4 linked regions of the Homo sapiens genome follow. The protein of the gene in region 4 purifies or fractionates together with the protein of the main gene of each other region. This does not show direct contact. Each region holds a gene or a part of one and is shown on either strand. Other genes may lie near its edges.

The links. Proteins that work in one complex are often made in the same cells at the same time.
Region 1: the proteins of OSTM1 (region 4) and STK39 purify together in Homo sapiens (affinity purification with mass spectrometry; one large-scale study listed by BioGRID and IntAct). This does not show direct contact.
Region 2: the proteins of OSTM1 (region 4) and PTPRS purify together in Homo sapiens (co-immunoprecipitation; one large-scale study listed by IntAct). This does not show direct contact.
Region 3: the proteins of OSTM1 (region 4) and NFXL1 purify together in Homo sapiens (co-immunoprecipitation; one large-scale study listed by IntAct). This does not show direct contact.

The regions. Positions count from the first base shown.
Region 1 is NC_000002.12:168,164,096-168,167,595, forward strand, and holds part of STK39 (STE20/SPS1-related proline-alanine-rich protein kinase), read right to left. Parts: intron 3,313-3,500; coding exon 3,204-3,312; intron 1-3,203. UniProt on the Homo sapiens protein: Effector serine/threonine-protein kinase component of the WNK-SPAK/OSR1 kinase cascade, which is involved in various processes, such as ion transport, response to hypertonic stress and blood pressure.
Region 2 is NC_000019.10:5,211,813-5,215,312, reverse strand, and holds part of PTPRS (receptor-type tyrosine-protein phosphatase S isoform 1 precursor), read left to right. Parts: coding exon 1-24; intron 25-576; coding exon 577-752; intron 753-832; coding exon 833-952; intron 953-2,821; coding exon 2,822-2,976; intron 2,977-3,062; coding exon 3,063-3,348; intron 3,349-3,500. UniProt on the Homo sapiens protein: Cell surface receptor that binds to glycosaminoglycans, including chondroitin sulfate proteoglycans and heparan sulfate proteoglycan.
Region 3 is NC_000004.12:47,904,584-47,908,083, forward strand, and holds part of NFXL1 (NF-X1-type zinc finger protein NFXL1), read right to left. Parts: intron 764-3,500; coding exon 654-763; intron 1-653.
Region 4 is NC_000006.12:108,050,742-108,054,241, forward strand, and holds part of OSTM1 (osteopetrosis-associated transmembrane protein 1 precursor), read right to left. Parts: intron 458-3,500; coding exon 290-457; intron 1-289. UniProt on the Homo sapiens protein: Required for osteoclast and melanocyte maturation and function.

The DNA of each region.
Region 1 (3,500 bases), on a different chromosome or scaffold from region 4:
GGATTCTGGGTCAGGGACCAGAAGGCTGTTCATGGCCGTTCCATGGCTGGTTCCTTTTCTGGTTACAGTATTTCTCACAAAAATTCCTAAGAGCAACCCTCCAAAGAGGGTGCAAAAAGTCTGAACTGACAAAGAAAGGAGTATGAGGCCAGGAGAAAAGGCAGAAGTGAACTGCTGAGAGAAAAAAAACACACTCTTTGAGGACCTAAATCACAGGTGGGAGGGGGAAAGAAGTATGTTGTTTCTAGACCTCTGCTTATAACCGGAAGATTCCTTCCTGTGACACTACCTGATCTTTATTTTCTTTCCTTCTTTTTCTTTTTTTATTTGAGACAGAGTCTGCCTCTGTCATATAAGCTGGAGTGCAGTGGAGCAATCACAGCTCACTGCAGCCTCAACTTCCCAGGCTCAAGCGATCCTCCCACCTCAGCCTCCCAAGTAGCTGGGACTACAAGTACGTGCCACCACGCCTGGCTAATTTTTGTATTTTTTGTAGAGATGGGGTCTTACCACGTTGCCCATGCCGGTCTTGAACTTCTGGGCTTAAGTGATCTGCCCACCTTTGGCCTCCCAAAGTGCTGGGCTTATAGGCATAAGCCACTGAGCCTGGCTGATCTTTATTTCATTTACCTGATATATTTGAGGCACTAACACTTACAATAAACAAACAGATACCTAGTACTTTGTTACCATATACAGATTAGTATCCTTGGCACTGTGAATTCATGTTTCAACACATATTAATTAGTATTCCAAACCCCTGGGTCAGTTTAAAAGCCAAAATTACCTGGGGGTTTGACATTTCTGAAGAGTTAACAAACGGCTTACCTCAGGACCTGAATTTGGCTCTAGGCTCTTTATAATTAACTAAGAGGATTGAGCTTCCCCATCAGATACAGCTGCCTGCCCCTCATTAAGAGATTCAATGTAATGAAATAGAAGAAAACAAATGCATATTTTTCCCCAGAGGAAAAAAAAACCTCTGTTTATTTGTTGACTCTTAGATTTTTGTGTCATTTAAAAAATGATAATTCCAAAAACATTTTCTTTTTATTGTATAAGGATATACCATACCAGGCATGCATGCATTTCTGTCCTGCTAAAAGAAAAATGAACAAGAGTCCACGTCTGCCCACGTCCTTACCTGTGGAAACCTGTTTAAAATCTGTTCTTACCTAAAGCCCAGAGAGGCTAAATTGGACTCAAAAAGACAAAGAAATTTTCTGTCAGATCCTCCTCAGAAAACAGAAGATTCTCAGCTTCATAAAGCAAAAGGTAAAATCTTCAGCTTGAGCAGAGCATTTGGGACTATTCAGGGTCTCAAGTCATCAGAATTTCTCATTTCCTCAGAGTTGGTGGAACCCCACAAAAAGAGAATGCCTTAAGATCATCTTGTTGGCAAAGCGCAAGTTCCTCTGCTGAATAAAGGGGCAGTCCCAGCACTCAATACTGCAGTCCAGCTCTGGCAGGCTTCCTTTTTCTTTTCCTTTTTCTTTTTTTCTTTTTAATTAAAAACTGAAGTAGGCACTCAAGGAAACAATGACTAATAAGACTGAGGAAGACTGAAAACAGAACAGAACTAAGCTCCCCAGGGCTCCCCACCGAGACCTACACAAGCAGACCCAAGCCAATTACAATGCCTTCGTCATCTCATTTTTGGGCTTCTGCTTGATCCAAGAGAGTTTCCTTTTTAAAAAAGGAAAACATTAAAACACCTCCCTCGACATCTGCAGATTAAAATAGGCTCTATCATATAAATTCTGCTATGCTAGTTTTGGGTTGTCCAGGCACAGCAAAATGTTCTCCTCTGATCCTAAACCATACTTCATGTCTCAGAAAGATACCCAGAGAATCAAGCCCTCGAAAGAGAACACACCAGAGATGTGGGTATGCTGGGTGTTCCCAAGGAAATCACTTGGGCTTTCTAAGCTTCAGTGCCCATGTCTGCAAAACGAAGGTGTAAATACTTGCAGCACAGCATACAAATTTTTAAGTCAACAGATGTTAAAGTCACAAATTCCAGCACCAACATTTACTATGTGTGTGACCTTGGGCAAGTTGCTAAACTCCCTTGAAATTTGGTGTAATTTCTGAAAAACAGGGATGGTGACACAGGCCATTCAGGGACACTGTGAAGATTAAATGGGATAAGGTCAGTAAATTGCCTTGGACAGGATCTAGCCACAGAGTAAGTGTTCAAAAAAGGCAACGGTTATCATTATCATTCCCTCTCTGATAGTGATGTTAGAAGATTAAAAGAAATAAAATACAGGATGTGAAAGCACCTTGTAAATTAAATTGTCAATGGCTTGCATCACTGCAGGGATCTGAAGCTAGAGAGAGGAAGTGACTTTCCCTTCCCAAATGCAACAATAGGATGACAATAGTGCCATTTCTGATCAACACTGCAAGTGAATATGTAGCACACATTTCTCCCCATGTCAACTGAAACCACATTTAGTGAGCACCTACTGGGCGCCAAGTTCAATGAATTCAAAGTGCATTAGACAATCTTCACAAAGTCCACAACCTAAATATGCACTGTCCAATACTGGAGCCATACAAGGTGATTTAAATGTAAGTTAATTAAAATTGAATACTCAGTCCCTCAGTCACACTAGCCACATGTCAAGTGCTTAAGAGTCACATGGGATTAGTAAAAAGTAGATAGCAGCACCTCAGAACATTTCCATCATCACAGAACATTCTGATAAATGGCACTGAGATAATTCAGCAAACTGCAATGTGTTAAGGACCTGAACAATGTTAAAAAGAAAGGACTCAAGGAGAAAGGACTGGCTAACTTTTTTGAAGAGTAAGCGGTGACTGTGGAGAGGATGTGACCTTTTAGGCCTGAGCACATGGAAAACAAAGGAGAGATGCAAGGCTGAGAAAGAGGACAGGTCAGGGGCAAAGGCATGAGAGCACATAATACATTCCGGGGGCTGCCTCTCAGCCTAGAAGGTCGGGCATTTCATACCTGGAGAAGAGGACATACACATTCTCGGAAGTTAAGCAAAATTATGAAAAGCTTTGAAGGTCAATGTGAAGCAATCTGGACGTTATCCTCTAGGCAATGAGAAACCAAACAAACTTTCAAACACAGGAGAGAAAGGATTCAATCTAAAGTCTTCTCCAATATGCTGGTTCCAACAAAAGGAGAGAAAACAAGCAAATAAATAACAACAACAAAATCCACTTACCTCCACTTAGTAATTTCATGACCAGCCAAAGTTCATCTTTGACCACAAAAGAGGTGTAATAGGTCACTACGTTGGGATGGCTGCACTGACTCATGGCTTGAATTTCTTTCTATAAAAAGAGCAAAACATGACATAGTACCATGGGGTGAAAATTGGCAAGCAAAACACAAGTGAATCACAGTTGAGTACCTGGGTAACTTTCCTACTCGAAAGCCTACCTGAGGGGCTGCCTAAGCCATTACTTCAAAGAAGGTATATAAGGACCAATTCTCTCACCCACATTATCAACTCAGATTA
Region 2 (3,500 bases), on a different chromosome or scaffold from region 4:
GTGTCATCCTCCAGCCCATTGAAGGTAGTTCGGAGATCCCGGGTCTTAACCTGCCCTTCCCCACTGCATGGAAAGTGCTAGATCCCATGTCTCCCCTTGGGCCACTGAGGCCTGATTCTGGTCATAGACCTGGTCCAGCTCCAACTGGAGGCCACTGGGCATCTTTAGATATGTATTTAACTGATGGCTGCTCTCTCTAACATGGCTTCATCTGTCCTTCTGCATCAGTTGTGACCAATCAGAGCAGTTTTGCTGCCCAGGGGACATCTGGCAATGTCCAGGGACATCTTTGGTTGTCACAACTTGAAGGGAAGAAATGTTGCTGGCGTGGAGTGGGCGGAGGCCAGGGATGCTGCTCAGCACCCTGCAGTGCCCAGAATGGCCCCGCCACAGAGGGCGATCTGGCCCCAAATGGTGATGGCGCTGAGGGGGAGAAACTGTGAAGTACACGTCCCATGGTCACCTTGGGGACAATCTGGGAGCGGTCAGAGTGAACTTCCAGGAAGTGGTTGGCCACACAGAGCCAAACTAGCAAGACAGCCCCCACAGATCCCTGGCCTCTCGCCCTGGCTGCAGGCATCATGGGCAGTGATTACATCAATGCCAACTACGTGGACGGCTACCGGTGTCAGAACGCGTACATTGCCACGCAGGGGCCGCTGCCTGAGACCTTTGGGGACTTCTGGCGTATGGTGTGGGAGCAGCGGTCGGCGACCATCGTCATGATGACGCGGCTGGAGGAGAAGTCACGGGTGAGCCTTGGACCCCACGGCCCTCAAGCCCCTGCCAGTCAGCCTGTCCCTGCTGACACCTGTTCTCTTGCCCGATACAGATCAAGTGTGATCAGTATTGGCCCAACAGAGGCACGGAGACCTACGGCTTCATCCAGGTCACGTTGCTAGATACCATCGAGCTGGCCACATTCTGCGTCAGGACATTCTCTCTGCACAAGGTGGGGCCCAGGCTGGGGCTGGGGGCTGAGGGTGGAGGAATGTGTTGGAAGGGAGGCAGAGGGCCCCAGCTTCTACCCAGGGAGCTCCCCATGGGACAGAGAGAAAGCGGAGCGTGTCTACCCAGGCTGACTACATTCTCATGGAACCCACTTCCGTGGAGGGGGAAACTGAGGCTCAGAGAGGACACTGCTTGTTTCCACCCACGGCAGGAGAACAAAGCCGGCAGAGCCCAACTCAGCAATGAGCCTGATTTCTTCTTGCCTTTACTCATGCCCCAGGTCCTCTTTGCCCACTTGTCCTCTGGCCTCACCCAGCTTGAGCCTATGATGGGGGCCTCAGCAGGGCCCCAGCCCTGCCTTCAAGGAGTCTCCAGACAGAGATGGACAGATATTGGCAGCCCTGCAAAGTCAGGACTGGGATGGAGAAGATCTTTTAGATATGTATTTAACTGATGGCTGCTGTCCATAGTGCGGTTCCATCTGTTTTTCTCCATCTGTGGTTCTGAATTAGGACAATTCTGCCATCCAGGAGACATTTGTTATTGTCATGATGGGGAGGGGAGGTGCTACTGGCACCGTGATGTATCCCCAACACCCAGCCAGGTCATCTCACCGTCAGGCACCTGCTTGACCTAAGTGCCAGAAAACTGAGTACATGGACAAGAGTGAGAATTCTTGGTTCAATCACACACATTAAGCATATGTTATACATTAAGCATATGTTATATCTCACTCCCTAACCTGGACACAAGCACACAACAGGGACCTAAACAGACAAAACGTTCTGCCCTTGGGGGATTTAACAGTCTAGTAGACAAGACACAGACCACAACTATGAAATGTCAAGAAAGCTTACATGTCAAAGGAGAAAAATAAAGTGGAGGAGAAAAACAGTGTTAGGGACCTGGAAGAGGGTATGATGGGGAGATTTGGGGGGACAGCATTTCAGGTAAGAGGGTGCAGCCTGGGCAGAGGCCCTGGGGCAGGACCGTGCCTGGTCATGCAGGATCCTGTGGGCCTTGGGGAAGACTTTGGCTTTGACCCTGTGGGAGGCAGGAGCCATGGAGGGCTGTGGGCAGAGGAGGTACCAGATCTGACTCAGGTGCCCTCTGGCTGCTGCAGGGAGGACAGACTGGGGGGCTTGGGTGGGAGCCAAGGTCTGCGGCAAAGAGGGTGGTGATAGGTCTAGACCAGATTGGCCTGCATGGAGAACATGGAGCAGGTGGATTGGGATAGACTTTGAAGGCAGAGCCGACAGTCCCGGGTGAGGTGTTGGATGTGAGAGGGGAAGAGTTAAGGGTGACTCCCAAGCTGTGGCCAGAGTGCCCAGAAGGTTGGAGCCACCTTCAGCTAAGACGGGGGAGCAGGTTTGGGGAGAAGGCCAGATACAGTTGGCCACGTTGTGTGTGAGGCGTCCGCAAGACTCTACTTGGAAACCGTCCAGGGCCAGCTAGAGCCCAAGTCAGGCACTTGGGGACATGGTGACTGGGAGGCGCAGACATGGGTGTTTTTTTTTTTGAGATGGAGTTTCACTCTGTCACCCAGGCTGGAGTACAGTGGCGCCATCTCAGCTCACTGCAATCTCCACCTCCCAGGTTCAAGCAATTCTCCTGCCTCAGCCTCCCAAGTAGCTGAGATTACAGGCATGCACCACCATGCCTAGCTAATTTTGTATTTTTAGTTGAGACGAGGTTTCTCCATGTTGGTCAGGCTGGTCTCGAACTCCTGACCTCAGGTGATCCGCCCACCTCGGCCTCCCAAAGTGCTGGGATAACAGGCATGAGCCACCACACCCGGCCACTTGGGCATCTTCAGCACATGGGTGGCAGGTTGAGCCGGAGTGACAGGTGACATCCTTGTGGTCCCCAGAATGGCTCCAGTGAGAAACGCGAGGTCCGCCAGTTCCAGTTTACGGCGTGGCCGGACCATGGCGTGCCCGAATACCCAACGCCCTTCCTGGCTTTCCTGCGGAGAGTCAAGACCTGCAACCCGCCAGATGCCGGCCCCATCGTGGTTCACTGCAGGTACGTCCACCCCACTCTGCCCCATCCGCTTCCCCCCGGTCCCCGCAGCCCAGCAGCCCCTGAACGCCACGTGGCTGTCCCTGCAGTGCCGGTGTGGGCCGCACAGGCTGCTTTATCGTCATCGACGCCATGCTTGAGCGGATCAAGCCAGAGAAGACAGTCGATGTCTATGGCCACGTGACGCTCATGAGGTCCCAGCGCAACTACATGGTGCAGACGGAGGACCAGTACAGCTTCATCCACGAGGCCCTGCTGGAGGCCGTGGGCTGTGGCAACACAGAAGTGCCCGCACGCAGCCTCTATGCCTACATCCAGAAGCTGGCCCAGGTGGAGCCTGGCGAACACGTCACTGGCATGGAACTCGAGTTCAAGGTGCCAGCGGGGTGGAGGCTGCTGTGGGCGGGGTGGGGAGGAGGCCCAAAGAGCCGAAAATCAGGCCCGCCTCGAGCAATGGGGACTAGAAGGTGGTGGCAGGGTGCCCCTACCTACCTATCCACCATTGGTGCTCCAGCTGAAAGCATAGC
Region 3 (3,500 bases), on a different chromosome or scaffold from region 4:
AAACTATTTCATCTGACTTGATTTGCTTTCTCTAGGCAATGCTGCTATAATAGCAGTGAATTAATCTAAGGTCTAAATGTTGAGTCTTTCACATTCAGTAATCACTTCTTAATTGCTTCATTAATGCCCTTTTAAATTTACACATATATATCTTTATCACTACGCCATATCTCCTCCAAGGACATGAGTTTTGTCTGAATCTCTCTCCCGACTGACCCTCACCACTTCCCAAAATGCCTTTAACACAGGATACGCTAACTAATTAAGCCATAAGTGTTACTGCCAAGTTCTACTTTCTTGAAGATAGGGACCGTATCTTTTTCCAAAAGTAATAAAATATAGTACATTTAACATTTCACTTTTGTGGGAATCTCTAAAGTACAGATGCTAAAAATGTTCTATCAAATCAACATTTGCATTAAAACTGAAGACAACTAAGTTATATCAATAGTGCTAAAAATACTGGATACTCATTTAGTGGTAATTTTTTTTTAATTACAGATTTTAAAATGAAGATCAATTCATATACAAAATTCTCAAATGAAGCATTTTTAAACATAAGTAAACAAAAGAATAATAAATCGTTAAGTATTGTAAGGCAAACTAAGGTATTTTGGGGAGATACATTAATATAAATAAGGAGAAAAACTTACTGCTTGGTTTCTCTTCACCGAAGCAATACAAATTAGGCATGTCATAGCCCCTGCTTGAAAAGCTTCATTTACATATTGTTTTGTTCGCTCTAATTCACGTGTATCTCCATCTGGAAATTTAAAGATTGAAAATCTCACCCTAAACAACATCTGAAAATAACACAAACTCACTAATAGCACCATATTATGTAAGAACTGTCTAGCAATATCAATTGCTCAAAATATAGCTGTAAAACAAGAAGTTTTTTTTAAAAAAGTAACCAATGAGCTGTCAAGAGGTAACGAAGTCTGTGTATTAAATCTTGTGTACTTTGTTCAAAATCAGTACCTCAGCTCTCTCTCTCAGTTATACTTGCTTTTTTGGCTGTTAGAATTCTCAACAAATTTGGCAGAAGCAGAGCCATAAGCAACAGCAGCAAGATGTAAAGTCTTAAGGAAAAGCAAAGTGTGAAAGGAAAAGCCTAAACTAATTAGTAGAGCCACTGAGCATAAATATAAGCATAGATGTGAGTGAGTGGGGGTGGGGGTGGGTGTGTGTGTATGAATTTAGCAGGTGTATTCTTAATAAAAAGTTGTTGAATGAAAAGACCCTGAGGTTTTTACAGTACAATAGCCACATCTCATGAAATCATGTTCACTATTTCTGCTTAAGAAGGTAGCATAAGCTTTTTAGAAAAAACAGTACCTGACATTATTTTCTTTCAGTAATTATTGAGTGCTTATTTGCTAGACACCGTACTATTAGTACTTCAATAGGATTAAATGAGCTATTATCTTCATTTTACAGATGAGAAAACTGAGGCACAAAAGAATTAACTTCAGTTTGCCTACAAAGTGAACCCTCTTAACCTCTATGCTGCACTGCAGTGAGCAGTTACTGCAGGAAGGTCCAACAAATAACAAGCAACAGCAAAATGAAAAACAGAATGAGTCCTCTAAAGCACAAATGACACCAAAAGGACAATAATCTGAGTCACTTTAGTATGAGAGAAATAAGCCTACATGCCTTTAAAACAATAAAGATTGTTCAATAGTGGTTAACTGAGTCTTCAAAAAAAGTAGATTAAAACGTAAACTACCATAAGTACAGAACTTACCATGGCAATAACGTGGTTCAAGCCAAAATTTAAGTTGCCAAAAAGAAAAATTAAATAAATAGGACATGTGGCTAATTCTTTACTTTCTAAAATCATCTGAGTAAACACGGCACTTACAAAAGCTTGCCCTACCATAAAATAAATATGATTTAGAACATTAAGCAAAATAAACGCAAACATACTCTCAAAACTATAAATTATTATAAAATTATTAAAGACAGTTGCTTTATTTTAAACAAACATTGAAGTTTTTAAAAAAATCCTTAAAAGCAGAATAGTATGGGGCGCCTATTTTGCTTTTCAACAAAGCTGGCATTAACAGATACAAAACATTTTAAATTTCATCTAATTTAACAGCTAACTCAAAAAACAGAATTTAAGAAGAAGATAGAACAGGCTTTTACAAAATAAAAACCAACCTTATATTTTAAAAATTTATGTAAGATTTCTTTGAAACATGTATTAAAGTTTGGCTGCATCAATAAAATGTACTGCCCAGCACATCACAGCGGATAGCATGCTATTTGAAGTCATGCATTTTAAAAAGATGACTCTGGCAACTAAAGAAAAATGAGTATGTGGAGGCCAAGACTGAAAGCTGGAAGTACCAGTTAAGAGACAGTTACAGCAGATTAAGCAAAAAATGACTTTGAGCAAGTTACCTAATGTGTCTCAGTTTTGTCATCTGTAAAACTAGTAGTAACAGTTATCTACCTCACAATTATCATATGGATTTAATCCACATGTTAAGCAGCTGTAAAGGCTTGAAGTAGGCAATGACAGTACACAGGCAGAGTAAGGGTAGATTTAAGAAATTTAGGAAGTAAAACTTAGGAGGACTTGGTGACAATGAGATTGTGTCTGTTTTAAAAGCTGATGTTCATGTCAAGATTCAGAAGGAAAGAGGGCTGTGTCTGCTGAGCTAACATGGGCAGAGGGAGAATTGCAGTAAATGACATGCATATGCCATCTCTGCTCCCAGATGTCTGGCTTGGGAGGGTGACTGAGAAAACTGTAGTGCTATTAAGATTAAGAAAACAAAAGAATAAATAAGTTCTCTTTCAACAGCAGTTTGATGGGTCCACGTGCCAGCAAGATAGAGATACTCATCAGGAAGTTGGCCATGCAAGTTTGAAATTTGAGAGAAGAATCACAAAAATGCAAAGGCTGTGCTCAAATAAAAATGAACTCCTTTGGTAAAGTCCTGGTCTTCAATTCACTAATGTTAAGGTGGGAACCATCCCATTACTCTGGAATGTATGTTCTTAAATCAAGTGATCAGATTTTCTTACATTGGTAGAGGCAAAGGAATGGGAATCATATACTAATGGATTTTATACAAAACACAGCATAAAAAAATTACCATAACACTTTTAAGATTAAAACCAGATTAAAAATTAATAAAACTTACAAATGACAAATGTTTTCTACATACTAGACTGAAAGACATTATTGCATTTTCTATTTTAAAATAAAATGACTCTATCTAGAATGGTTTAAGTGAGTTCCTCTCAAAGCAGAAAACTTCTTAAGATTATTTTCTATAAGGTCCTTCAGAAACAAGAAACCCTCTAACCTTAGAGTTACTTTTTATCAATTCTTACCTTGCCAACCTAGACTTCTCAGCCAAACTTCCTAATCTTAATTCCTTAGCAGATATGGTAAATTCCTTAGAAACCTACTTGATGATGTACAACTATCTTCATGATCCTATCAATATACTCAGGCAACTATCTAATCACCAAGGTTA
Region 4 (3,500 bases):
ACATATTTTCAAATTTAAAAAGATTAAAATGTACCAAAGCATCAACTCACTTATGAAGTACCTAATTAATTTCTGTTTTATTTTTATCCTAACCATGAGACTACTAAGGAAATATCCATTTTGGTTTAACAGACCAGGATATTCTAAAACTTTACTACTTTATAACTAGTTATTTTTGGTTGAGGACAGAATATGCAGATTCCACCCTATCACCAAAAATAATAATCATACTGAAGGTACATTCAATAACACTCTAAAATATGTATCACATCAGAAGCAAAGTACTTACTGCATCTTCCACATCAATGCATAAATGTGTTCCAGGTTCAGCCTTATTCTCAAGTTCATTCATTTTTTGCATTTCACTGTACAGACTACTCAGAGTTTTGTATGCTTCACGGCAGTTTTTGCATACTTCTGAATAATTTTTTGTCTGTAAAAGACTATGTGCATTCCCCTAAAATGACAAAGGCACATGTAATATATACAATAAACATTATATACAATATCTCTTTAATGTAAGCTATTTACGCTTCTAGAAGACGGGAAACAATATGGTGTGTTAAAGTGCTAAGCTGTGATGTTGAGTAGGTTACTAAATCACTCTGAGTCTCAGTTTTATCATCTATAAAATAAAACGACCTCTACCTGTATTATAAGTCCGAAGGATTAGAGACCCGGTATGTGAAGCAGATGGCAAACTGTTTGGAACTTTCTAGGTGCCTCTAAATTTTCAAAACTGCTGCATTAGCTAATGTTAACTGAGGATAACAATAATTCATATGCCAAATGACTAGTAACTAAATACAAAATTTCCTAAATTATCTCATCATCACAAACCCTCACTTATCTATCCTACTCTCACTGAATAAATAAAATAGGTTCCTGCCTATGCTGACTTGAACACCATAGTTTATCTTACTGAGACAGAACTTTTTAAATGGAAAGGGAAAAGGCACCAAAACTGCATCCCCACTCAACTCTCTTATCACAAGGCTCATAATCCAGGCCTTTCTAGTCAACAAAAAGGGCCAAATACCAAAGAATTGTATAACCTAAAATGAGGATAGTGGAGGTACATAAAATATTATGCTACTAAATCTCAATATTTTGTACTTCTAGACTGACACTTGTCTTTTCAAGAATAAGTTTGCTAAACAGTCAGTTCACACCTTTGCTTTCTATGCCCTTTATTCTTTACTTTGTAGTATGAAGAAAGAATATTAACTGAACATTGGGATGAAAGAGAAAAGAGAAAAATCAAAGTAATTACACTGATGTTGGCCCAACAATGTTACCCTCACCATCTGCTTGACAGAAAAACTAAGTCTCTCCTTAGTCTGCTACAAGAAATAGCCCATTGCTTGTTTTTCACAGAACAATTGTGCACTTAGTTAAAAATTGAGCACAGGGCTGGGCGCGATGGTTCACACCTGTAAACCCAGCACTTTGGGAGGCCGAGGTGGGCGGATCACAAGGTCAGGAGATCGAGACCATCCTGGCTAACACGGTGAAACCCCATCTCTACTAAAAATACAAAACTTAGCCGGGCGTGGTGGCGGGCACCTGTAGTCCCAGCTACTTGGGAGGCTGAGGCAGGAGAATGGCGTGAACCCGGGAGGCGGAGCTTGCAGTGAGCCGAGATCGCGCCACTGCACTCTAGCCCGGGTGACAGAGCGAGACTCCGTCTCAAAAAAAAAAAAAAAAATTGAGCACATAATCCATTTAACTAAAATTGTGCACATAATCTAGATGGGGAGTAATTTAACCTTTTTTTTTTTTTTTTTTTTTGAGACACGGTCTTGCTATTTTGCCCAGGCTAATTTCTAACTCCTGGGCTCAAATGATCCTCCCACCTCAACCTTCCAAAGTGCTGGGATTACAGGCAGGTGCCACCATACCTGGCCACAATTTTTATTCAAATTTAAAATGCACATATCTTTTAATAATGTGAAAGTTGCAGACATTAGGATGAAATCACCTTTTGACAGACCAAGACAAAATAGAGACAAAAAGAGTCCTTGTTTCCAAAGACTTTCTAAAAACCCCACAAGAAATCCTTTCACGCCCTTCATTGCAACTCCTGCTTTCACATGGTTTATCACTGCCATTCTTTAGGACTGCAGTAATTCAGATAAGATGCACTCAAAAGAACACTTGCCCAGTAATGGCATCGCCACCAATGAACTGACAACTTGGCTTTGAGCCTCAGGAACCAATGAACTCAGTTTCCAAGCAGCTTGTGTGAACCTCTCCCTTTTTGCTAATAAAAGCTTCCCTTTACCCTTCCCTCACTGGATGTACTGGTGGTTTGCCAGTGCATTCCAAATTACCATACTTCTTTCTTATTCCCTAATAAACTCATCATATTTGGAGATAATTTTCTCTAGTGTCTTTTTCTTAGGCTGCCAATATAGTAATTCTACTTCTAGAAATCTACCAAACTCATACAAGTACTCTAAGTTAAATGAAAAGAAGACTGTTTATGGTGTACAATTTAAAACTTATTATTTCCAGAATTTTCCATTTAATATTTTTGGACTGCAGTTGGCCACAGGTAACTGAAACTGTGGAAAGTGAAGCCATATATAAAAGGGATGACTTTATAGAAAAATTGCTATTTGAGTGTTACAACACACATCAGTCCACTAAAGGCTCTGAAGTCCTGTAGTAAAGCATTTCCCAACCTTAATGGAATACTAAACCCTTTCTGATAGGACATCTATTAACATGCTGCAGAACAAATTCTGAGAAATGTTCACCTAATTTTTTTTATTTTATTTTTTTGAGACAGAGTCTCTCTGCAACGCCCAGGCTGGAGTGCAATGGCACGATCTCAACTCACTGCAACCTCTACTTCACTACAGGCGTGCACCACCAAGCCTGGCTAAGTTTTGTATTTTTAGTAGAGACAGGGTTTCACCATATTGGCCAGGTTGATCTCGAACTCCTGACCTCAAGTGACCTGCCTGCCTTGGCCTCCCAAGGTGCTGGGATTATAGGCATGAGATACTGCACCTGGCCCAATTTTTATTATTCTCAAGGAAATTCATAATTCAGTGTTACCACATTTATTACAGAAGAAATCATACATGCTTATACCCTAAGCATGTGTACATCTACTATGGGGATTACTTACTTGTTATGTAAGTTTCAAAACTACATTTTAACCAGAGTTCCAACCTCGTCCTTCACCACGACCGGGCAAGTTCCAATACCAAAATTCAAGAGTCAGAGATAGAGATGGCAATAATCTACAAGGTTAAGATTCTTAAAGCTACCTTTTATTATCATAATTCAATACTCAAAGTTATCTTACTAAACAGTGCTTTTTAAGGTAGGTAAAACATACTTAAGCAAATTTCAGGCAAAGAATAAACTTCCTATAGACAGAATCATACTACACTGCAAAATACCTACGTAAGTCAGATTGAAAACCATTGTGTTTTAATTAAACAATCACACACCTCAATCAATGTTTTCACAATCATTATCTCACC